Linked DNA regions of Homo sapiens. The protein of the gene in region 1 purifies or fractionates together with the protein of each later gene. This does not show direct contact. Each region holds a gene or a part of one and is shown in the gene's direction. Other genes may lie near its edges. The genes, in order: ZNF346, KRR1, FARS2 and CHERP.

Region 1 (7,643 bases):
GTTTAAGGCTGGGCGTGGTGGCTCACACTGGTAATCCCAGCACTTTGGGAGGCCAAGGTGGTCAGACCACATGAGATCAGGAGTTCAAGATCAGCCTGGCCAACATGGTAAAATCCTGTCTCTAATAAAAATACAAAAATTAGCTTGGTGTGGTGGTGCACACCTGTAGTCCTAGCTACTTAGGAGGCTGAGGCGGAGAATTGTTTGAACCTGGGAGGCGGAGGTTGCAGTGAGCCGAGATCGCACCACTGCACTCCAGCCTGGGTGACAGAGTGAGACTCTGTCTCAAAAAAAAAAGAAAAGAAAGAAAAACTAGAGTTGAATCTCTTTGAGAGCAAGAACTATATCTTAAGCACTATAGTTTCGTTTGCACATGCACACACATGCACATACAGAGTCAGTATTTAAGCAACTGAAATGTATGCTGAACAGTAGCCAGTTCCCGTCCCTTAGCAAAGTCATTTCCCTGGGATTGTTCATCTCCCATGGCAACAATACACAGTAGGATGTGTTGGAAAATGGTTCTCATTTTCCACAAGGAGGAAATAAAAAGCCAGCCCAACAAATATAAGGCATCACCTGCACTGCCAGGTCCCAGCAAGGAGTCCAGGCCTGGGCCATTCCTGGAAGCACTTACACAAAGACAAAATAGAAAACTGGTGACAATGAAGGCTGTTCAGACCCTCAGCAGGGTAGCTCAGGACTCTGCCTCCATGGCACAGGGGATGAACCCTGACAGCACTCATTGGAGAATAAATGGACATTATTTTGAGCATGTAATTGGATTGGAGGTTGTTTTCCAATAATATGCAAAGCAACTTATATACTCCACTCCCAGTATTTGTTACATAGTATTAAAAATATCCTTGTGGGTTCTGCGACTTCGACAAAAATCCCCTGTATCCCTTGGATTATCCCTGAATAACTTATGCTATATGCAAGTGTAAGTAACTAGAACTCTTAAGATAAATAAGTAGTTTGTGACCATCCTGGCTAACATAGTGAGACCCCGTCTCTAAAAGTAAATAAATAAATAAAAAGAGAATAAATAATGTGCAGTCACTGACTTTTAGGCTGGTCATCTGGTTTTGGCAAAAGGACATAGATTTGCAATCTAAGGACCAGTGTTCAAGCATGGGCTCGTACCTAACTAGCTGTGTGATCTTCACAAAACCTTTACCTTTCCTAGTCTGTTTCTTTATCATCACTTATGAAGAAATCCCTCACAGAAACCACCCTGAGGATTAAATGCTATAATGTAGGTGCTTTGCAAACTGTAAAGCACTGCCCTGGGCTGGGTGTGTGGTTCACACCAGGAATCCCAGCACTTTGGGAGGCTGAGGCAGGAGGATCGCTTGAGCTCAGGAGTTTGAGACCAGCCTGGGCAATATAGGGAAACCCTGTCTCTACAAAAAAAAAATTTTTTTTAATTAGCTGGGCATGTTGGTGTCCACTTGTAGTCCTTGCTACTCAGGAGGCTGAGGCTGGAGGATCACTTGAGTGTGGGAGTTCAAGGTTACAGTGAGCTATGATCATACCACTGCACTAGTGAGACCCTGTCTCGGAAAAAAAAAAAAAAAAATTGTAGGCTGGGTGTGGTAGCTCATGCCTGTAATCCCAGCACTTTAGGAGGCCAAGGCGGGCAGATCACCTGAGGCCAGGAGTTCAAGACCAGCCTGGCCAACAAGATGAAACCCCGTCTCTACTAAAAATAGAAAACATAGCTGGGTATAGTGATGGATGTCTGTAATCCCAGCTACTCGGGAGGCTGAGGCAGGAGAATTGCTTGAACCCAGGAGGTGGAGGTTGCAGTGAACTGAGATGGTGCCACTGCACTCCAGCCTGGGCAACAGAGACTCCGTCTATAAAAAAAAAAAAATTGTAAAACACTGGCCAAACATCAGTCACCTACTGTATTGGAAGCTTGGAAGCTCTAGGGCCTGAGGCCTGACATAGTGCTGGTGCTCAATATTTGTAGTATAAATAAGGAAATACTTGTAGTATAAATGACTAAATTACACCAATGAGCTATATGATCTCAAGCAAGAATAATTCATATCTGTCTCTCTTTGGCCTCCTCTGATATTACTTTCCTCCTTGTTCACTGGGCTCCAGCCATGCTGTCGTTTTTCCTGTTCCTCCAACACATCATGCTCTCTCCTGCCTCAGGGCCTTTGTACCTGCTGTTCTCTCTGCTAGAACACTCTTGCCCAGCTCTTTGCATGGCTACGCCTTCTCATTAATCAGGTCTTAGCTCAAATGTCATTTTCCCAGAGGCTTCTCCTGATGCCACCCTGATTAATGTTCCTAACACATCATTCACCTGAGATGCAATCCTGTTTTATCTTCTCCTTAGCACTTATTATTGTTAACTTTTTTTGTTTTTGAGATGGAGTCTCGCTCTGTTGCCCAGGATGGAGTGCAGTGGCACGATCTCGGCTCACTGCAAGCTCCGCCTGCTGGGTTCACACCATTCTCCTGCCTCAGCCTCCCGAGTAGCTGGGACTACAGGCGCCCGCCACCACGCCCGGCTAATTTTTTTGTATTTTTAGTAGAAACGGAGTTTCACCATGTTAGCCAGGATGGTCTTGATCTTCTGACCTCGTGATCCACCTGCCTCGGCCTCCCAAAGTGCTGGATTACAGGCATGAGCCACTGCGCCAGGCCTACTGTTAACTTTCTTATTGTACTCTCCTCCACTACAATAAAAAATACTTTACTACAGCTTCCCTGTCTTGTTCACCACTATATTTCCATGCTCAAAATATCATCTAGCTCATAGTAAATTCTCCATAAGTATTTGAAAAAATGAGGTTGAAATAAGCTAGTAATATTAAAAGCTTCATTCATTAAACAAATGTTTTGTATATACCTAGGAGGGTCCAGGTTCTATTTCAAAGTGCTGGAGATTCAGGTGCAATGACAAGAGACAAAAGGCTACGCAAGGTGGCATGTGCCTGTAATCTCAGCATTTTGGGAGCCCGAGGCAGGCAGATTATGAGATCAGGAGTTTGAGATCAGCCTAGCTAACATAGTGAAACCCCGTCTCTACCAAAAATATAAAAATTAGCTGGGTGCCGTGGCATGTGCCTGTAATCCCAGCTACTCAGGAGGCTGAGGCTGGAGAATTGCTTGAACCCGGGAGACGGAAGCTGCAGTGAGCCGAGATCGCGTCACTGCACTCCAACCTGGCGACAGAGCAAAACTCTGCCTCAAAAACAATTTAAAAAAAGAAAGAAAAGAAAAGAGACAAAAATCCCTGCCTTCCTGGGGCTTGCCTTCTAGTCGGGAGACAGACAATAAGCAAGATAAAAGGTAAAATATAAAAGAAATAAAGCAGGAAAGAAGGACATGAAGTGTGTGTGGAAAAGTAACATTTTAGATGGGATAGCCAGACAAGGTATTTTAGATAGAGTAGCCAGAGAAGGAAGTGGGAGACTGAGCCATGAAGATATATGAGAGAAATTCACCCCAGGAGGCCTGGATAACTGGGACAGGAATTAAGGAGTTGGGGACTGAGTAACACATCAGGATCAGGGAGGTTAAGGGAAGTCAGATTGTACAGGGCCTTGTTGGTCGAAGTAAGGACTTTGGCTTTTTTTTTTTTTAGTCGGAGTTTCGCTCTTGTTGCCCAGGCTGGGGTGCAATGGCGCCAGCTCGGCTCACAGCAACCTCTGCCTCCCGGGTTCAAGCCATTCTCCTGGCTCAGCCTCCGAGTAGATGGGATTACAGGCATGTGCCACCACACCCGTCTAATTTTGTATTTTTAGTAGAGACGGGGTTTCTCCATGTTGGTCAGGCTGGTCTCGAACTCCGGACCTCAGGTGATCCGCCCCCCCTTAGCCTCCCAAAGTGCTGGGATTACAGGCGTGAGCCACCGCGCCTGGCCGGACTTTGGCTTTTACTAAGAGTGAGATGGGAAGCTGTTGGAGGATTTGAGAACCTAAGCGTCATGATCTGACTTGTCATAAGAGGATTCCTGGAACTGCTGTGCTGGGAATGCCAGTGAGGTTGCTACTACAATAACCTAGGCAAGAGATGGTGGCTCCCAAAGACACGGGAAGGAGCAGCTCTGGGGTTGGAAGATAAAATTTGGGGTCTGACAGCTACATTGGAGAAGCCTATTAGCCATTCGAGTGAACTGTGGAAGAGGCAACTGGATGTATACAGGTCCGGAGTCTCGGGGAAGATCAGAGCTGGGAGCTGGCACTTGGAACTCAACAAATAGTATGTATTATTAGCAGTAATATGGAACCTTAGCTGTACTACTACTTACTAGTAGCGAGCTCTTGAGTTAACCATTTTTAGGTTCTGGGCCTCAGTTTCCCTGTGAATGAAATGGCGAAAACACTCCCACATAACGGGACCTTGAGAACGAAATGAAAAGTATCAAGGGCTGACCGTGAGCAAGGTGAGAGCCATGAGCCAAAACCACACGAGCCTCTCCGGGAGGGGGGGGTCACTGCTGCGGAATCAGCGACAGGTTTCCGAATCCACGGCACACGCTCTGAGGTACCAGAGGTAGCAAAGCAAAATAAGCGCGGGGTCCCGCACGGCAGCGCGGGTGCAGCGCCCAAACCTCGCGAGATTTGTTGGCTGGGCCAAGTACCACCCACCAAATCTCGCGATACCTAGGCGCCTGAGAGGCTCTCTACCGGTGAGGGTTTGCGGGGAAGATGGAGTATCCCGCGCCGGCCACGGTGCAGGCCGCGGACGGCGGAGCGGCCGGGCCTTACAGCAGCTCGGAGTTGCTGGAGGGCCAGGAGCCGGACGGGGTGCGCTTTGACCGCGAGAGGGCGCGCCGCCTGTGGGAAGCCGTGTCCGGTGCCCAGCCGGTGGGTAGAGAGGAAGGTGAGTCGGGGGCTTTGGAGGCAGAAAGCCCCTCGCCCGCTGCGCGGCTCGCGGGGAACTGCGGAAGCGCCGACGGTCACACCCCCTGGCCCGCCTCCTTGCGTGCTGCGCCCCGGGACCCCCAGACTTGTGCTCCCCATCCGGGCGCGGGCACCCCAAGAATCGGGCCCCCAGCGCGCTGAGGGTGAAGGGCCGCTCACGCTCAGGCCCTGGGTTTTCCTCCTCCTCCTTCATCATTCACTACAGCGCAGTTTTTCCCACATTCGAGGACTGTCATCCCTATACTCGTCCTGTCGGAGACCTACAGTCTTTGCCATCCCGGTAAGCCAAGCCGAGTGCCCCTCACCACTCCTTGACTCCCCATCGTCCCAATCTCCAGATTTCCTCCTAGGGCCTCTCGCCTCCCTTCTCTCAAGCCCCACACTTCCGAGGGCTCTGGAAGGCCTTCTCCTTACCCCCTGGGTTCCTCCTGGTCTTGATGACTGAGCCCTGGCTTACCCGTTTTTAGCTCTCTGGCCTCTACTTGCTGGGTCCCTTATTCTAAGGTGGGGACAAGGAGCCTGAGAAACTGGTCTGGGTTTGCTTTGGCTCCAGCTTCTTTGTGTCCTACACTTGACCCAAAGTTGCTGAGAACAGTGTATGCAAAGCCACGTTAGGGGTCACTCCTGGGCCGAAGCGCCCCAGCTTGCTCTGCACTTGACCTGAGACTGGGTAAGATGGGATGAAAGAAAGAGAAGGATGGAAAAGAGCTGTCCTGACCTGCTTGTGTGACTCCCTTCACTGTCCTTTACAGAGCCAGCTGCTTGATGCTAACCCAGATGTACAAGAACTCTATCTGGGCTTCTCTGCTAACCTTGTCAGGTATCTGGAGGGAAATCAGATTTCTCCAGTGATTTGTTTGCTTGCTGAGCAGACTTGTCTTCGAAAGTTTAATATGCTATTTGTGAACTGACTGCCCTGGATAAAATTGGATAAAATTGAAATTTTGACCATATCTAAGGAAGGTACACAGACCTATACCCTGGTATATACTTCTCCAATTTAAAAACAAGTCTAGCCTGTCTCCTAAGTTTATATATATATATAATGTATATTATATATAAAAAAGAAGGAGACAGGGCCCCAGAAATGGTGTGTGTGTATGCGTATATATAATATACACACACATAAATGTATATATATAATATATACACACATAAATCTGTATATATATTTTTATATACACTTGTAAGTATTTTATGTATACACACACACACACACACACACTATTTCTGGGGCCCTCTCTCCTTTTTTTTTTTTTTTTTTTTGAGAGAGTCTCACTCTGTCACCCAGGTTGGAGTGCAGTGGCACAATCACACTGCAACCTCCGCCTCCTGGGTTCAAGCAATTCTATACTGCCTCAGCCTCCGGAGTAGCTGGGATTACAGGCTGCTGCCATGACGCTCAGCTGATTTTTGTATTTTTAGTAGAGATGGGGTTTCACCATGTTGGCCAGGCTGTTCTCGAACTCCTGACCTCAAGTGATCTGCCCGCCTTGACCTCCCAAAGTGCTGGGATTACAGGCATGAGCCACCGCACCCGGCTCTCCTACTTTCACACTTGTTTGGTAGTTTCCTCCCCTACCCCAATTTTCCTTTCATTAACTTGACAAACACTCACTGATGCCTGCTCTGGACCCGGAACTGGTTGAGCTTCAGAGCTGGAGTATCAGAGGAAGATACTGCCCTTGCCCTGGAAAGGCTTGCAGTCTAGTCCAGGAAGCAGACACCAAAACAGTTCCAGTGTAATGTAAAGGATGCAGTGCTGAGGAATGTTTTAAGAGTTGGAGGTGCACAAGAAGAAAGTGACCTTTGCCCTGGATCTTGAAGCAGAAAACCACTGTGCTCTGAAAAGTGAACTGTCTGCTATGTGTATATGAGTGTATAGTGGCACTGTTATGACCCATTTCATTTCCCTGTTCTCACTTCTCCCACATTTATGTGAAATCTAGGTAGACACCTACAACATTAAGTTCTACTCACCCTTTTTCTACTCTTAGCACCTTCATGTGAGTTACAATTTATATACCATACAAGTCACCCATTGTAAGCATATCGCCAGTGATTGTTAGCCAGTGTACAGAGTTGTATAGCCATTACCACAGTCCACTTTTAGAACATTTCCGTCACCCCAATTAGTTCCTTTGAGCTCATTTATATTAAATCCCCACTCCCACCTCCTGCCCTAGGCAACCAGTGACCTGTTTTCTGTCTTGGGTAGTCTTTTGAGTTTGGCTTCTCTCAGCATGTTTTTGAAGTTCAGCCAAGTCATGGTGTGTATTAGTACTTCATTCCTTTTTATTGCTAAATAGAATTCCATTGAATGAATATAACACATTCTATTAATCCATTCATTAGTTCTAGACATTTGGATTGTTTCCAGTTTGGAGTTTTTGTGAATAGTGCTGCTGCGAACATTCATGCCCAAGTTTTTGTGTGAACATACATTTCATTTCTTGAGTATATCCCTAAGAGTGGAATTGCTGGGTCATATCGTAACTCTGACATTTTGGAGAACTGCCAAACTGTTTTCCAAAATGGCTTCACCTTTTATATTTCTGCCATCAGTGTATGAGGGTTTCGCTTTTTCTATAACCTTGACAACACTTGTCTTTTTTGATTATAGGCATTCTAGTGGGCATGTAGTGATATCTCATTGTGGTTTCCTAAAGACTGATAATACTGAGCAACTTTTCAGGGGCTGACTACCCATTTGTAGATCTTTGGTGAAATATCTATTCACATCATTTGCCT
Region 2 (4,279 bases), on another chromosome or scaffold:
GGGCTCTTTCTCAACATAGTTTGTTGTTAAATGCATAAAATACATAGGATTATAAAGGAAACCAATTAAATTGAAATAGTTATCAAAATGTTTAAAACAAGATTTGTGATAAAGTAATATGTGCTTCTCTATTAAGATCTACCGGGGGCTATTAGTTTCAATGCAGTGATGAACACAAACTATATTTTGAGTTCTCTGCAGCAAGTGGAATGTGGTATGAAAATATCTGATATTTACAAAGATGATACTGCTAAGTCAGAGTCACGTTTATTGCTAATATGATGGTGGAGTGTTGTCTTCATTCATAATGAAAGGAAATGTTATTTTTAATAGAGGTTAGTGAAAATAAAAATAAAACTATTTTCTAATCAAAGTTTATGGTCCTCCTCTCCCCAGCACTCTACAATTACCTCCAAAGTTGAGAACTCTCACCTTAGACACACAACTTTATAACGATACCTTATTTCCAACCCCAAATCTATGTTCTTATCTCATTTTGCTCCAAATTTTAAGTTGCTTCAGAAATTTAATTAGCCCTCTGCTTACTCTACACCATGGAAAAAAGGTAATATAGTAGAAATTCTGATAGCAATTTCAAAAGATGTCCAAAATAGACATTAATCATTGGAATGTCTTTCATTGTTAATAAGCACAGTATTAAGTGGTTTAAGTTCTAGAATGATTTTAATAAAGTCATTTATGATACTTAGTTGTGCATTCCAAACTGTAAAGGAAAAGGTAAAAAATGCTACTTAAAAATAAGCTAAAAACCAAGACAGTCGGTGAGGTCTGTGGAAATGGTAGTATTCATCTTGGGAGAAACATGCTACTGGAAAGGCCTGGATTTGTCTAGATGGGAGTCATTAAGACTGTGGGACCTAAAGTATTCAGCACAATAAAGCAACAGGACATTTCAATGTTTTCCCTGGTAGCCTGAGAGAGAAGAGGGTTGGGGTTATGGGACCCAGGGGAAGACCGAAGACAAATCTTTAAAGAAAAAGATAAATATGGGTAAGGGTCCCTAAGGCAGTGACGGCCTAAGCACACTGGTACTATCTTGACTATCTTGTGGTCAAAGTTATTTCCTCTTCTGTGCTATAATCCTCTCCTCCACTAATCCACTCTGAGTAAAGATCTGTTACACACCATACCCTTGTTCATGGTGCCCAGGGGAAATGAAGAGGAGAGTATTACAGGCAACTGGAAGATTAAGCATCCCAGACCCCATTCTGAGGTATCAGAAATATTGAGGAGGATACTGGACTTCCTAAGATTATGTGGAATGGGGGCCTACAACTTTTTGTGTATAGGAAAATAATACCTCAGAGGGCAGAGGGCAAAGGGAAATGAGGACATTCCTAACTGGTCTCTCTGTTTTACCTTTTATGCTCCTCTAATCCATTTTCCATCCAGACTGATGTCCAAATTTAAAGGTCTCATCGCTCCCCTGCTTAATATACTTGAATGACTTCTTATGTAAACTTTGTCATGATCTAAAAGTTCCCGCTAGATCTGCAACTGCCTTCCTCCCCCCGTTTCATCTGTTTAGCAGACCGAGGGCACCAGTCTCTGTGGTTTAAACTTGCCAAACTTTTCTTCACGGAAGTTTTGCTGTTCTTTTCTCCACTAGACAGCTGTTCCAGAAGTTCTTATGTCTGATTCCTTCTCATTCTTCATGCCTAAGCTTAAATATAACACAAGAAGCCCTTCCCTGATTATTCTAAACAGGGGCCTTGCCTATTGATAGTTTCTATTACAGTATTATTTATAGTTCCTTAATTGCCCCATAATGATGCAGTTATTTTACTTGTATTTTTATTATCTGTTTGCCCCATAAATATTACTCTCATAAAGACAGAGACTGCCCTGTTCTCCTTTGGAGCTCAGTAAAACAAATATTTGTTGAATAAATGAATATTTGAAGTTAGTCTTTATGGAAGCATTATAACTTTGGTTGTAAGTTTTATAATTTAATATTGTTTATAACTCTGAAGATAAGTGAGTCTAAACCAGGAAAATTTACATTTATACTTTAATGAATAAAAATCATGAATACTTACAAAACATTCACTATTGCCAAGCATTATATATACCTAGTATTTTACAAAGCCTTCTCTTGTCACTTTCATAGCTACTCTAAGTGATGGGTCCTGTAACCCTGATCTATTGGAGGTTAAACTGAGATTCAGAGTTAACTTGTCCAGGGTCACACAGTAAATTAATTGTATCTTAACCATTAAAAATGTCATATGAGGCCGGGTGTAGTGGCTCATGCCTATAATCCCAGCACTCTGGGAGGCTGAGGCAGGTGGATCACTTTAGCCCAGGAGTTGGAGATGAGCCTGGGCAATATGGCAAAACTCTGTCTCTACAAAAAAATTAACTGGGCATGGTGGCATGTGCCTGTAGTCTCAGGTACTAGGAAGGCTGAGTTGGGAGGATTGCTTGAGCCTGGGAGGTTAAGCCTGCAGTGAACCGTAAGCGAGCCACTGTACTCCAGCCTGGGTGACAGAGTGAGAGACCCTGTCTCAAAAAAAAAAAAAAAAGTCATGAAAAGTTACCACTAACTGAATTATGGCTTTGTCTAGTTTTTTCTGGGTTTTCTTTATTTTCCAACTCTTAAGATATTAAGTCAAAGCTGTCATCTTCAGAATGACGCTTTGTCTCCTCCTTCACACCTACAGCACTCAGTCAGAGTATCGAGCATGTCTTCTGCACATTACACCAGGGAAATGGCTTTCTTTCAGCCAATCTCCAGGAATCCAAAAATTCAAAGGCAACAAATTAAAGATCATTATATATATTGCAAATGGTTAAAAACCTTTAAAATATAAAAACTTTTATAAATAAGAAAATCTAGTAGAAAAATGGTCAGCCCACATGATTCACAGAAAAAGGAATATAAATAGACAATTATGTGAAGAAATTTATAATTACTAGTAATCACAGAGATGCAAAAGAAAGCAAATGAAATGCCATTTCCATCAAATTAGAAAATACTAAGAAATTATAATACCTAGTACTGATGGTGAAATACAAATTGATATAATGGTGGAATGTAATTTGGCAATATGTACTTAAAACAAAAATGGTCACAGTCTTTACGTGCTAGTATCTCAAGGAATTATAGGGAAATAGAAGTGACTGAAGATACATATATGAGGTTGTTCATCATATATTAAATGAAAATATAGTGAACAATCTAAATTCTTCAACAGGATGGTGGTACCATCAAGAGCATGGACTCTGGAGCTAGACAGCCAGATCAAAGTCCATCAGTGATAGTCACTAACTGTAGAACTTTGGGCAGGTTGCTGACCCGTGTGTGCCTTGCTGTTCTCATTTGCCAAACAGGGGTAGTAATAGGAGCCATCTCATAAACTTCTGGTGAAGATTAAGTTAATATATGTGAAGCACTTTAACAGTGCTGAGAGCATTGTAAGCATTATATAAACAATCTATCATTTTTATGATTAAAATCACTTAAAATTTTGAAAAGGAAAATTTTTCACAGCATAATTTTAAGTGAAAAATAGAAAATGTATATTTTCAGTATGATCAGATTTCTAAATATGTGTATGACACAAGCACACATATGTAAGTTTAAAGAAAGTAGGAGGAAGGTGTTTGCCCTGTTTCCCAAAGTGGGAACTATATCTGTTTTAAAAACAACTGTCAAAAGTAAATGAAATAGGTTATATAAGTTGAGGAATCTGTTTTGCTTTGAAAATTGTGTAAAATTGCCAAGTTTCTAATAAACCAATAAATATAACATCAGTTCTTCCACTTTGTGGTATTACCATATACAATTTATGTCCCTGATGAATATTTTAGTCTTACCACTCTTAAAAATATGTGCGTATGTATTTAGGTAGTATATATAAAGGATGTACACACACACACACACCCTCTCTCTCTCCAAGAAAAATGTACCAGAATGTTAATTAAGTATATCTCTGGGCAGAAGAATTAAAGGTTATGTTAATTTTTTATTTATACTTTATCCAGATTTTCTATAATGAAGAGGAATACTGCTAAAATGTTTTTTTTTGTTGTTGTTTTTTTTTGCGGGGGGGGGGGGGCGTTTCCTATAAACCGGTTGATTCAGGCACTTACCCTGGTCCGTAGTTGCATATAAAATGTGCTCCATTGGAAAGAGCGTCAAAGCCAGAAACTTTAGGGCAAAATTGAACTGCGCAGCCAACTTTGTAACTATCTGCCCAAACAACCTGAAAGGAAATAAGGATTTTTAACAGAGAAAAACCATAAGATAAACATT
Region 3 (7,032 bases), on another chromosome or scaffold:
TATCTTGGCCATTGTGAATAATGCTGCAGTGAACAAGGGGGTGCAGATGTCTCTTTGACATGCTGATTTCATTTCCTGTGTTATATACACAGAAGTGGGATTGCTGGATCATATGTTAATAGTTCTATTTTTAAATTTTTTTGAACCTCCATACTATTTCCCATAATGGTTATACTCCTCTAAATTCCCACCAACAGTGTACAGTGGTTCCTTTTTCTCCACATCCTCACCAACACTTACCTTTTCTTTTTGGTAATAGCGGTTCTAACAGGTGTAAAGTGTATCTATCTCATTGTGCTTTTGATTTGCATTTCTCTGATGACTAGTGATTTTGAGGATTTTTTTTCACATACCTATTGACCATTTATATGTCTTCTTTTCAGAAATCTTTATTCAGATCCTTTGCCCATTTTTCTTTCTTTCTTTTTTTTTTTTTTTTTGACATGGAGTCTCACTCTGTCGCCCAGGCTGGAGTGCAGTGGCGCGATCTCGGCCCACTGCAAGCTCTGCCTCCTGGGTTCACACCATTCTCCTGCCTCAGCCTCCCAAGTAGCTGGGACTACAGGTGCCCGCCACCATGCTTGGCTAATTTTTTATATTTTTAGTAGAGATGGGGTTTCACCGTGTTAGCCAGGATGGTCTCGTTCTCCTGCCCTCATGCTCCACCCACCTCGGCCTCCCAAAGTGCTGGGATTACAGGCATGAGCCACCTCGCCCAGCCCCTTTGCCCATTTTTAAGTTATTTGCTTTCTTGCTGTTGAGTTGCGTGAGTTCCTTATGTATTTTGGACATTAGCTTTTTCCCAGATACATGGCTTGTAAATACTTTTTCCCATTCTGTGAGTTGTCTCTTCACTCTATTGAGTTTTTAAATAGTTCTTTACTGCCCCTTCCAAAGAGGCAGCCTTCTTTGTTTTGTTTTTGCTGACCAATTTCCTTCCATTCTTTTCTTTTTCTTCCTATTTCTCTTCTTCCCGCGTCTTCCACCCAGCATCACATGTAGTGCTAGATTATGGGCATACGATGATAAATATAAGAGAGAGAGGAGAGAAAGAGTATGTGTATATATATGTGTTTGTGTGTTCTACTCTCAAGAACCACACAGGCTAGTAGGAATACAGACAACAGCAGGTAGTAATAATACGGCATGCTAAACATTGCACATTGAGTGGTATTTGGGTCCAGGAAACAGGCCCGTTTCCTTCTAGATGTCTTTTCCCCTGACTTCTGTGCTGTGGCACCCTTTACGTCCCCTCTGTCTTACTCCTTACATCCCCTTCCCTTAAATATGATAAGTTCCAAGTATTCTTCTATCTTTTGCCCACTTATATCTTGCTCTTAGCCTCCCATGGATTCTTATATACGCTTGTGATATTAACTCTTACGTCTATGCAAATTACCTCCAAGGTCTACATTTCCAGGATTAATGTCTTACCTCATTTCCAAACTATAATATAACTCGAATTGCCTTACAGAAATTGTAATGTGGCTATCTCATTCATACTGAACTTCCATTGTCCAAATCTGTTTCCCTCTACAAAAGATGATCTGAACAAACAACAAAAATCCATTCTGAGTTCTCTGTGTCAGTGAATGACTTTATTAGTTCATCCGTTACCCGATCTCTAGAAATCTCTGGGTCACTTTTAACCCTGAATTCAGCTCATCTTACCCGTTACACACTGGGCAATGAGTTAATTAGCTGATGAACATGATCTAGTATAATCTTTTCATTATGAGATAAGTATTATATTTCTCTGTTTTACAGATGAGAACCTTGAGGCCAGAAGGGTCAAATAACGTTTCTAAGGATGATACATGGCACCTAAGAGATCAACCTAGGATCAAACCAACATTAGTATCTCTGCGAAGTCTGGCCTATTGCCCATTATATTGTATTTTCTCTTCTTATAGTTGGTCTGATTGTTTCTTTTGTACCAGTGCTAACATACTTCACGTCCACATTTGTATTCTTGCTCCTTTTTTGTGACTTTATAATCTACATATATTTGTGACTAGGAAGATTTTATTAATAGTGTAGAAAAATTTTTCAGTAGGTTAAGCTAAAACAGGGCTCAGCAAACTCTATAACAGACCAGAGAGTGAGTATTTAGGCTTTGTGAGCAACACAATCTCTATAGCAGCTATTCAATCTTACCTTGATAGCAAGAAAGCCATGGCAAATGATAAATCAAGAAATGGCTGTTGCTGTGTTCCAACAAACTTTATTTGTAAAAACAGACTATGGGCAAGGCACGATGGCTTAAGCCTGTAATCCCAGCACTTTGGGAGGCTGAGGTGGGCAGCTCACTTGAGGCAGGAGTTTGAGACCAGCCTGGGCAATGTGGCGAAACCTCATCTCTACAAAAAATACAAAAGCTAGCCGGGCATAGTGGCTTGCACCTGTAGTCCTAGCTATCTCTGGGGCAGGGAGCCACTGGAGCCTGAGACAGGAGGATCACTTGAGTCTGGGAGGTTGATGCTCCAGTAAGCCATGATCATCCCACTGCACTCCAGCCTGGGTGACAGAGTAAGACCCTGTCTCAGAAACAAAAAAAAGCCAAAGCCAAAAAAAAAAACCCCAAACAGACTACTGTGGGCAGATTTGGCCCTTGGGTCTGTAAATACTTATTTCATTTTTACTATCTAAGCTAATGTGTTTTATTGGATTTACTTATTCATGCATTTATTTATGTATTTAAAAACACATTGATGTATAATCTCAATTAGATAAAATAGAAGTTAAGGGAGGTCCTTGCAGAGATACCATTTGAACTTAACAATCTTGGACCTTTGATTGAGAAGTATACTTTCTTTTTTTTTTTTTTTTTTTTTTTTTTTTTAGTGAGGCAGAGTCTCACTCTGTCACCCAAGCTGGAGTGCAGTGGTGCAATCCTGGCTTACTGAAGCCTGAACTCCTGGGTTCATGCAGTCCTCCTGCCTTAGCTCCCCAGTAGCTGGGACTGCAGGTGTGTGCCACCATACCCGGCTAATTTATTAAATAAAATTTTTTTTTTTTTTTTTTTTTTGTAGAGATAGGGTCTTGTCATGTTGCCCAGGCTGCTCTCAAACTCCTGGGCCCAAGTGATCCTTTCGCCTTGGCCTTCCAGAGTGTTAGGATCATAGGCGTGAGCCACCACACCCTACTGAGAAATGCACTTGACCCCTGGACAACTGATTACCCTCCCTCAGTCAGTTGAAAATTCCTGTATACCTTTTGACTTCCCCTAACTTAACTATTAATTGTTAACTGGAGGCTTTACTGATAACATAAACAATTGATTAACACATATTTTGTATGTTATAGGCATTATATACTGTATTACAATAAACTAGAGAAAAGAAAATGTTATTAAGAAAATCATGAGGAAAGAAAATGTATTTACTATTTATTAAGTGGAAGTAGATCATCCTAAAGATCTTTATTCTTATCTTCATGTTGAGTAGGCTGAAGAGGAAGAGGAGGGGTTGGTCTTGCCTTCTCAGGGGTGGCAGAGGTAGAAGAGATAGGGGAGGCGGAAGGGGAGGCAGGAAGGGCAGGCACACTCAGTGTAACTGTTACTGAAAAGAATCTGCATGTAAGTGGATCTGCACAGTTCAATCCATGTTGTTTGAGGGTCAGCTATATTTGAATTGCCAAGAATTCTGAACTGTCTCATGGCTAGCTAGGCATATGAATTTATGCTAGTTACGTGATCTTTTTGAGCTTTATATTCTTTGTTGGTAAAGTGGTACGAACAATACTTACATCACAGAACTGTTGAAGGGATGAAATGGAAGAACAATGTATTAATAGAAGTATGAATGTCGTTGGTCTTATCCTCCTGGGTCTCTTATGTATTTCCAGATGATATATTTCTTATAGAGAAATTCGATAGAGGTAGAAGGAAAGGAAGTCACTTCTCAGATAGAAGTGGGAAGGCTCTCCTAGTCATCCATCTCTCTCTGTTAGAGATAGTAACAGAAAGGACAGATACTTTTCTGTGTGGGGTGAATGACAGTGGAGAATGTAAGCAGGGCTGAGCAGATAGATAGAAGGCCTGAAAACCAGGGCAAGAACCTCAAACTTTCATCGGCAAGCTGGGGGTTGCGTGAGGAGAGCAAGGAAGGGACACGAGGCTGGGGCACATCCCTGGGAATGGAACCCAAGTGTGGGTTTGGATGTGTGAAGAGCTGGAAACTGGGAAGGAAAAGCATCGACAGCAGCCCACAAATAACTGGATCAGAAGCACCTTTCCGAGAACAATTCTGAACTTTGTCTAACACATATGCCTTTGGGAGGAAGAAAGCTTTTCTTGTGTTTTGGCAAGGGTGCTGAGCTAGGTAGCTAATAACCTAACAGTTTGATTTTGTGCCAAGATGTGTAAGGCTGCATATGCATGTTTAAAATTCATATCCACTGCAGTGACAAGTCACTGAACACTAGATGGGAAGACATTTCAGTTGAAGCTCAGCCAAAAGCCCTTTTGAAACAACTCTGACAAAATAACGCCATAAGTGAATAAAACCAGAGAGTTCCTGGGTATCTTTGAAAATGTCTCCCATGATGACAGTCTCAGACAAAGGTGCTGTGCACAGCTTCTAAGAAGCAATCACACACAAGCACAGCCATTCAACTTGCAGCTAGATTTCCTCAGTTCCAATTTGGAGTCAGGTGGATTGTGTTGTCCAGGGACAGACTGTGCTTTTGATAGTGACTTGGAACAATATAATTCTTTGCTAATGCAGCTTCATATCATGAAGTTACATATTTTCTTGGTATGATTGCACGGCCCTTGAAGTAAAACAGCCACATAGTTGTATGCTTTAAAATAGCCCGGTAGGGAAGAATTCCACATTTTAGAAGATGGATTTTTATAATTTAAGTTTGTGAATGTAAATTATTTGTGAACAATGGGATGTGACATCTCAAGACTCTCCTTATTGGGATCCCTGAGTGAGTTTAAAACTGGCTTCTGTGGCAGTGGGAAGAAGACACTGTGTGAGTGGTTCACAGCCCTTTGCGGTTGTCTTATTGAACTCTTTCAATACCTTAGAGTTTTGCCAGTTATACTTAGGTCCTTCTCACCTCATCCGTGACTTGAACCGCCTATACTAGATGACAGCTGAGGTGACTTTCAGCTGTAAAGTTTGGCATTTTATTTACTTAAAAATCTAGGTCAGTGCTCTGCCTTCTGGCTGCTCTGTCACTCTTCCCCAACAAGTTTAGTCCTGTTTCTGGTTAATTGTGGGTGTGTAGTAGAAATTTGCCCTTTTGCCAAAGGTGTAATTGAGAGGATGCCACAAAGGTATTAAGTTTAAGTGACATGACCAGATGTGAGAAGATTTGCATTTACAGCTGTCCATTGATATAGTCTATCACTTTGTACAATATTTCCTGAGATTTTCTATTTTATCTTTAAAATATTAAAGTTAACCACAATCTAAAGTGGTGTATTTTGTTTAAAACTTTTTAAAAAAATTAGTAATGTCACTTTGTGATCTAGTGAAGTAATACAGAAGTTATGCTATGTCAAAGATAAAGAGAACTCTGTAGTTATGAGGATGGTCGGCAGAAATGTGAAGGATGGCTCTTAAATCTCTTCTCTTCCACTCTCCTTCGGAAGCCTCTGTCTAATCATTTGCTTCCTTTATTAGTGGGACCCTTAATAGGGTCCAATTAAGTTCTGTATTTTAGGGGATCTCTCTGAAGTTTTTTGGTTCTATAATGTAAAGGTTGTCGTGTTTACAGTTTTTTTCCACATCACGAGTTCAGGACATGATAACATAATAAACGAGGTTTTCTACAAAGCCAAGGATCTGAATGACAAAGGAAGGACAACTAGAGATTAGGGATATAAAAGTGACTTCCAGGAATCTTTTCATTTAGTGTATTAAGTATCACATGTCTGTCAGATTTCTTTAATTGGCTCTTTCAGCTGTGTGGAGGTCGTAGTGGGGGAAACATGCCAGTAGGACAAGAGGGAGCTGGTGGGAGATGCAAAGAACACACTTGCTTTCCACAGAGTGACACCTGACTTGTGCTTTGCCTGTGTGCTCTTTCCAGAACCTGTGAGAAGTTTCTACAATGGTGGGCTCAGCTCTCAGGAGAGGTGCCCATGCATATGTCTACCTGGTGAGTAAGGCCAGTCACATCTCCAGAGGCCATCAGCACCAGGCCTGGGGATCGAGGCCTCCTGCAGCAGAGTGTGCCACCCAAAGAGCTCCAGGCAGTGTGGTGGAGCTGCTGGGCAAATCCTACCCTCAGGACGACCACAGCAACCTCACCCGGAAGGTCCTCACCAGAGTTGGCAGGAACCTGCACAACCAGCAGCATCACCCTCTGTGGCTGATCAAGGAGAGGGTGAAGGAGCACTTCTACAAGCAGTATGTGGGCCGCTTTGGGACCCCGTTGTTCTCGGTCTACGACAACCTTTCTCCAGTGGTCACGACCTGGCAGAACTTTGACAGCCTGCTCATCCCAGCTGATCACCCCAGCAGGAAGAAGGGGGACAACTATTACCTGAATCGGACTCACATGCTGAGAGCGCACACGTCTGCACACCAGTGGGACTTGCTGCACGCGGGACTGGATGCCTTCCTGGTGGTGGGTGATGTCTACAGGCGTGACCAGATCGACTCCCAGCACTACCCTATTTTCCACCAGCTGGAGGCCGTGCGGCTCTTCTCCAAGCATGAGGTGAGTCTTGAGATGTTTCTCATCGCTGAAGGATGTCATAGACATTTTATGTTGAGGTCACTAACATTTAGCTCGATGAGACCAGCATAGTCATCCTTGCTTGCCTTATTTTGCCTTAGTGAATCATCCATACTTAATGACATCTTGTGTATAGGTGTGCCCCAGTACTTTTTGACCGCTTTGTTGTGTTAGTAACTACAGAAATTGGTAAGCCTTAGTTTCCAGTTGTCTGTCCTTATCCTTTCTCTCAATACTGACCCGCCATTCTCTGGGTTACTTCTTATGAATGGAGAATAGTCTGTGGCTCAAATTCACCTTTAATCCAGGATGGCTGAAGGTGCAACATGGAAACCT
Region 4 (7,032 bases), on another chromosome or scaffold:
CTCTGTGAGCCACCAGGCTTCTGTCTCCAGGACTGCGAGGTCTAGGTGTCCTGTGCACCTTCGCTGCATGCCCTGTCCTCTCCCCTAGACCCCGGCCTCACCTGTCACATTGCTGTCTCCTGGGGGCCACTGTCCCCTGCACTCCTTCCTCTCATGGGGCAGCTTCTTGGCGTCTCCTTGTTGCCTTCTCAGCCACGGCCTCCTTGGCCTCTGTGTCTGTCTCCTGCCCTCGTCACTGATTTGCACGCACACACACGCGGTCACCTGACTTTGCTCAGCCATCAGGACCCTCCTTTGGGATCCCCTTCTCCAGCCCTGACCCATCTCTCAGGCTTCAACAGAGCCACATCTGCCGACCCTCTGTCCCCACCCAGCCCTCACCCTTCCCACTGTTGCTGTCTCCACCCTCCCCAAGGTTGGGTGGGTATTTCCTTCTACAGGGTCACTGGGGCCCTTCTCACAAAAATTAGCAAAAAAGAAAAAAAAAACAATAGAACCCCAGGCCAAAGGCCCGCACGTGCGGGAGGAGACAAGCATTGCTACTGAGCCTAGCGGGCAGCAGTCCTGGCCTGGCGCCTCGTGTGCCTCTACAGTGGGCCAGGCTGCCAGCACCCATCTCGCCCCATCTATCACATGCAGCACTGCCTGAGTCCCTCTTGCCTCCCCACCTCAGTCCCTGTTTCTCTCCTGCTGGGAAGTGAGTTGCGGCTCGGCACCAGCTCTGCCCTTCTGCTCCTCCTCATGCCTCCATTTCTCCCTGCCTCTGAGTCGGGTGCCTTGCACGGATGCACAGTTTCCCGCATTCTCCAGCCACGCGCCTCTCTAGCTCTACTCTGTCCGAAGCCAAGTGCTGCTCGCCCAGCCCAGGCCCTTGCTCCCCTGAGCCCCCTGCGGCAAGCTGAGGGCTGAGGGGCTTCCAGCTGCTCCCCTCCTGTCTTGCGTCCCTCCCCAGGGGCAGCCATCTCCCTGCGCAGCGGCAGGGGCCTCCCAGGCCAGGTATGCACAGTGTCCTGTGCAGCACTGCACAGCAGCCCTGAGAGGACATGGGCCCGGCGCCTCCCCCCGCTGGGCATCCGGTCACTCTTCTAAAGTGTTCTAGGTTCCTGAGGGACTGGGCACCCTCCCTCCTTCTCCCAAGAGGCCTGGCCTGGGCCGAGGTTTCCTTGTGCATAGTGAGTGACAAGGACAAGACCCCCACTCCGCAGCAGTCCCATCCCGCCCATCATACACAGGCAGGGGCTCCCGCCGGCCCATATCCCTTCACCCGCAGCGCCACCCAAGAGGGAAGGAGGGAAGGTTATTTCCTATCAAGGGGACTGGACCAAAAGGCCTTGCTCAGAACGGCCCCAGGCCACGTTCTCTCCCTCCCCTGCTTGCTGTTTTTCCATCTGTCCCTTCCTCGAGCCCAGGCACCAGCACAGGTCTCGTGGGAGCCCAGCCATCGCCCTGACCGGGTTGGGGACCCGATTCCCGAGAAGGCAGAGGGCGCTGAGGCTGGAGCCGCGATGGTAACGGGCGCGTGGCCGGGTCCCGCCCCAGGGCCCTGACGCGCGGAAAGTCTCTCCCTCACAGCCAGCGCAAGCAGGCCCGGGAGCTGCTGGCCGCCCTGCAGAAGGTCGTGGTGCCCATCTACTGCACCAGCTTCTTGGCCGTGGAGGAAGACAAGCAGCAGAAGATCGCCCGGGTGCGTGGGCCCCGGGCCGGGGGTTGGGCAAGACCGGGACACACAGGCCTTTCCCCTCCCCACTGACCCGGCCTCTCTCTCCTCCCACCGCCAGCTCCTGCAGCTCTGGGAGAAAAACGGCTACTTCGATGACTCCATCATTCAGCAGCTACAGAGCCCAGCCCTGGGGCTTGGTCAGTACCAGGTGAGTGTCCCTGCCCACCCACACCTCACCCTAGAGCTGGGGCGGGTTCCCCAGGAGGGTTTGGGAGTGTGGGGACAGCAGCTGCCACCCCAGCAGCCAGAGAGCCCATGTCCCCTGCCTGTGCTAGGAGTAGCCAGTGTGTGTTGACCAGAGAGTCCCAGGTGACATTTCCCAGGCCTTAGGTGTGTCTCCCTGACTTTCCTGGAACACTAGAACCAGGCGGCCTTTCGGAGTCATTGCACATGGCCCATTTGCTCTGGTGGTCAGGCATGTTCCGGTGTGGTGGAAGCATGAGGAAGCCCAGACGTGGCTTAGGCTGTGGCAGCCCCTCTTGCTGAGAGCCACATGGCGAGTGGGAGGCAGAGCCCATGAGCGTGTCCCAGAATGTTGGTGGGCAGTGTTCGCTGAGCAGCCACGAAGCGGCCAGGACACGGCTGTCGTTGCTCGTTCTGTTATCAGGGAGTCGTAAAACACGCTGCAGCGAACATCCTCATCCCCAAATCTCTGGCCAGATCCCAGCGCACACTGATTGCCCAGACTGTGTTGGCTGTTTCACGTGACGGTTCCCTGTCCACCTGCCCCAGGTCCCCCAGGCTCTGCTGCTTTCCAGGCGTTTGTCCTCTGGCGCCAGGCAGCGAGCCCCAAGGCCGCATACTGAGCAGCGGGTGCTCTTCTCTCTCTCAGGCCACCCTCATCAACGAGTACTCCTCAGTGGTCCAGCCGGTGCAGCTGGCCTTCCAGCAGCAGATCCAGACCCTCAAGACGCAGCACGAGGAGTTTGTCACCAGCCTGGCCCAGCAGCAGCAGCAGCAGCAACAGCAGCAGCAGCAGCTCCAGATGCCGCAGATGGAGGCTGAAGTCAAGGCCACGCCTCCACCGCCTGCTCCACCCCCGGCCCCAGCACCTGCCCCTGCCATCCCGCCCACCACCCAGCCTGGTACGGGGCTCCCTCAGCTCAGCCTGCCCCCAGGAAACAGCCCCCAGAGGCTGGGCACCGAGTGTAGTCAGAAAGCAGTCTGCCACCCTCAGACTCAGTTCTTGTTCCCTCGTCCCAGGCCTGCTCCTAGGCCCAGGTTTTCATCCATTTACAAGCACGAGCCAGGTGATCCTAGAGTAAAACTACAACCATCCCATTCCTGAACAGCAGAAGATCTGTTTCCTGTTCCCAGAGAAAAGAAATAGAGGAAAGGTACCCAGATCATTCCCCAAGACTAGGGTAACTATTACATCAGGCAGGAAGGACAATGCACAGACTGAAAATATAATTGGCTAGGCATGGTGGCTTACGCTTGTAATCCCAGCACTTTGGGAGGCCAAGATGGGCAGATCGCTTGAGCCCAGGAGTTTGAGATTAGCCTGGGCAACATGGTGAAACCCCGTCTCTACTAAAAATAGAAAAATGGTGCTCACCTGTCGTCCCAGCTACTTGGGGGCTGAGGTGGGAGGATCACTTGAGCCCATGAGATTGAGGCTGCAGTGAGCTGCATTTACACCACTGCACTCCAGCCTGGGTAACAAAGCGAGACCCTGTCTCAGAAAATACAATCTAGTGTCACTTCTGAAAAAGACACGGAAATACTGAAGGAAATCTTAGCAGAATCTAGCAAAGGATTTTGTTTTTGATTTTTTTTTGAGATGGAGTCTTGCTCTGTCGCCCAGGCTGGAGTGCAGTGGCGTGATCTCAGCTCACTGCAAGCTCCGCTTCCTGGGTTCACGCCATTCTCCTACCTCAGCCTCCTGAGTAGCTAGGACTACAGGCGCACGCAACCATGCCCAGCTACTTTTTTGTATTTTTAGTAGAGACGGGGTTTCACCGTGTTAGCCAGGATGGTCTCGATCTCCTGACCTTGGGATCCACCCACCTCAGCCTCCCAAAGTGCTGGGATTACAGGCGTGAGCCACCGCACCCGGCCTAGCAAAGGATTTTAAAATTACATTCTGATCAAAGAAGATTTGTTGTAGGAATATGAGGATTGTATAGAATAGAAAATAACAGATGTGGGGAAATGACCTTTTAATTAGATACAGTAAAGATGTCTAATCAAATTCAGTGTGGATAGAAATTCTTCAGCAAACCAAGAAGGCAGAAGTGAGGCCTGTTTCTTGTAAAGCTTTGAAAAGGACAGATGTGTGTCATGTTCAAGGTCGAAACCTCCCCTCGCCCTGTCCCCTTCCTGGAAGCCAGTGATAGTCATGGTTTTAGTGGGTCCTGAAGCGATCATCCACTGGGCACTAAAAGCGGTAGCCTGGTTTGCTCTGGGGTAGTGTGGAGAGGAGACAGCGCCTCCTGCTGCCAGGCCTGCTCTAACTGCCTGTCACTTGGATTTAGATGACAGCAAGCCTCCCATCCAGATGCCTGGCTCTTCAGAGTACGAAGCTCCAGGAGGGGTCCAGGATCCTGCAGCTGCCGGCCCCCGGGGCCCCGGGCCACACGACCAGATCCCACCAAACAAGCCCCCTTGGTTTGACCAGCCTCACCCCGTGGCTCCTTGGGGCCAGCAGCAGGTATTGATTGGAACCTGGGGTGGGAGCAGATGGGGCACACTTGGCCTGATGGGGTAGCCTCCCCTATGCCAGTTGGTGGGCGTTGAGTGGCTTACTGGGGAACAATGAGGGATATTCTGTGGCAGAGCTTATGCTGGGTTAGTGACAGCCCTGTCTTCCTGTGGCTCCGGGACAGGTCAAGTGACAGGTCTTCACGTCCCTTCCCCGAGCTTTGATGGTTTGGGCTTCTCTGTAGTATAGATCACCATTGTCCTGCGAGTGCAGGGGAGTTTAACGCTGCAAGGCACGGCAGGGTGTTCTGTTTCCTGTCCTCCTTAAACAGGTTAAGCTAGTTGAGTGTCAGTGTTTTGTCATCCTGGAAAGAACAAGGTGCTTTTGTAAGGAAAGGGGGAATGTCAGAAATGTCAGCCGTGTTGCCCCTGGGAGGCCTCAGATGCAGCTTTGCTATGGGTCACATACCCCTGGGCCAAGGCAGGGGCCACCTTATGTGGCACAGCATGGCTGTGAAATGCCCTGCAGCGTGCTGGGTCCACTTTCAGCACTGAGGCACAGCCCCGGGTCTTCCAGGGCGTGACTTTCCCCCTTGCCCGTGGGGCCTGGTTGGCTTCGCAGCGTGGCCTTTCCAGGTGACTCCCTGTCTGCAGGGACAGGTGTAAGGATGGCAAGGAGACTGGCTCTGGACTGAGACTTGGTGGTTGTGGCTTTGAGCCTCCCATCCCCAGCTTCAGGACACGAAATTGAACCTCACAAAAGATTGGACACCCCCATAAAGACAGCTCCCACCTCCAAGTGCTGGCCAGGAGCCAGATGGTGGTGGCTGTTTTGCAGGTACCCTCTGCTGGGGGGGGCAGTTCTTGTCCCTGTTTTGTAGGTGTGGAAACAGGCCCTTAGTGTCTCCAGGCTCAGTCTTTTTGCAGACCAGAGGGTTGGGCTCAGGACAATGGGCACGCCCCTCACTGAGGGTGCCCGCTAGGCCAGCAGTGCATCCTGCAGTCCACACTGAGAAACAGCAGCCTGGCCTGCTTGACTTGGCCATGTGGGGTCTTAACACGTTTAAAAGTAATTTCTCAAGGCAGGAAGATTGCTTGAGGCCAGGAGTTTGGGACCAGCCTGGGCAACAAGGCAAGACTCCATCTCTACAAAGAATAAAAATAAGCTGGCATGGTGGTGCACACCTGTCGTCCCAGCTACACAGTGGTCTGAGGCAGGAAGATTGGTTCAGCCAGGACTTCAGGCTTCATTGAGCTATGGTCATGCCACTGCATTCCAGCCTGGGTGACAGAGTGAGACCTTGTCTCTAAAAAAGAAAAGCAAGGCTGGGCGTGGTGGCTAACGCCTGTAATCCCACACTTTGGGAGGCTGAGGTGGGCAGATCATTTGAGGTCAGGAGTTTGAGACCAGCCTGGCCAACGTGGTGAAACCTCGCCTCTACTAAAGATAAAAAAATAGCCGGGCATGGTGCCAGGCGCCTATAATCCCAGCTACTCGAGAAGCTGAGGCAGGAGAATCACCTGAACCCGGGAGGTGGAAGTTGCAGTGAGCCAAGATCGCGCCACTGCACTCCAGCCTGGGCAACAGAGCGAGACTGTCTCAAATTAAGAAAAAGAAAAACAAGTAGTTCCTGATATTTAATATCTGGCTCTCTGGCTTCTCTTGGAAGCCTGGTGAATGTGGCAGCCTGGGCCAGCCTCCCCTTAGTAGGGGTCAGCGCAGTTACCCAGCTGTGACCCTAGACACCGGCCTTCTCATTGGCCTCTGTGCTCCTCCCCTCCCCTGCCCAAGCTGGAGTTTGCCCTCCTGGCTTTAAGTCTCCAGAGCAGAAGCTGATGAGGGAAGAGCCTCCCGTCTTCAGTCTACAGGAAGATGCTGGCTTGGTTTGAAAGTCCCCAGAAGCAGACCCCAGGACAAGGATGTGTGTGCCGCAGTGTATCTGCCCAGCAGACGGCTTTTGGGGAGAGGGGGAGTGAGGCAGGGCAGGGGGTGTCAGAGTGAGCCCCGCCCCATGGGTGCCTGGGGTGCCCTGAGAAGCGATACCGTCTGTGCCTCTGCACCTGCCCCTGAGGGGCGAGGGAGCTGGCGTTTGTCTGGCAGTGGTAGCGGGGAGCACCTTGTGGCGCGGGCGGCCTGTGTGCGGGTGCAGCGCGCCCCAGCGGCAGAAACAGCCCCGGGACTGAGATGCGGGTGCAGCGGTTGGGTGTCTGGTCATTTTGCAGCAGCATGTGGTGCGGGCTGAGAGCAGGTGCCCAGCATCCTCGCAGGCGTCAGCGTAGGAGGCGCCTCAACGTGGCCAGGGCAGCGCCTCCATGGTCTGAGCCAGCGCTGTGATGCTGCCGAGCGCTGTGATGCTGCCGAGCACTAGGGCCTAGACCACGCAGGGCTCAAGCCTGTCCCTTCCCTTGCAGCCGCCAGAGCAGCCACCCTACCCGCACCACCAGGGCGGCCCACCCCACTGCCCCCCCTGGAACAACAGCCATGAGGGCATGTGGGGCGAGCAGCGCGGTGACCCCGGCTGGAACGGCCAGCGCGACGCGCCCTGGAACAACCAGCCCGACGCCGCCTGGAACAGCCAGTTCGAGGGCCCCTGGAACAGCCAGCACGAGCAGCCGCCCTGGGGCGGGGGCCAGCGCGAGCCACCCTTCCGCATGCAGCGGCCCCCACA

Evidence for each region.
Region 2: the proteins of ZNF346 (region 1) and KRR1 purify together in Homo sapiens (affinity purification with mass spectrometry; 3 studies listed by BioGRID and IntAct, with this or other methods). This does not show direct contact.
Region 3: the proteins of ZNF346 (region 1) and FARS2 purify together in Homo sapiens (co-immunoprecipitation; 2 studies listed by BioGRID and IntAct, with this or other methods). This does not show direct contact.
Region 4: the proteins of ZNF346 (region 1) and CHERP purify together in Homo sapiens (co-immunoprecipitation; 2 studies listed by BioGRID and IntAct, with this or other methods). This does not show direct contact.

The regions. Positions count from the first base shown.
Region 1 is NC_000005.10:177,018,063-177,025,705, forward strand, and holds the start of ZNF346 (zinc finger protein 346), read left to right. Parts: upstream 1-4,633; 5' UTR 4,634-4,676; coding exon 4,677-4,851; intron 4,852-5,097; coding exon of another isoform or gene 5,098-5,172; intron 5,173-5,644; exon of another isoform or gene 5,645-5,657; coding exon of another isoform or gene 5,658-5,712; intron 5,713-7,643.
Region 2 is NC_000012.12:75,490,356-75,494,634, reverse strand, and holds the end of KRR1 (KRR1 small subunit processome component homolog), read left to right. Parts: 3' UTR 1-3,772; downstream 3,773-4,279. Other genes in the region: GLIPR1 (glioma pathogenesis-related protein 1 precursor), read right to left, coding at 4,117-4,229. UniProt on the Homo sapiens protein: Part of the small subunit (SSU) processome, first precursor of the small eukaryotic ribosomal subunit.
Region 3 is NC_000006.12:5,362,505-5,369,536, forward strand, and holds part of FARS2 (phenylalanine--tRNA ligase, mitochondrial), read left to right. Parts: intron 1-6,045; 5' UTR 6,046-6,066; coding exon 6,067-6,678; intron 6,679-7,032. UniProt on the Homo sapiens protein: Is responsible for the charging of tRNA(Phe) with phenylalanine in mitochondrial translation.
Region 4 is NC_000019.10:16,525,421-16,532,452, reverse strand, and holds part of CHERP (calcium homeostasis endoplasmic reticulum protein), read left to right. Parts: intron 1-1,572; coding exon 1,573-1,684; intron 1,685-1,778; coding exon 1,779-1,868; intron 1,869-2,552; coding exon 2,553-2,805; intron 2,806-4,197; coding exon 4,198-4,373; intron 4,374-6,775; coding exon 6,776-7,032. UniProt on the Homo sapiens protein: Involved in calcium homeostasis, growth and proliferation.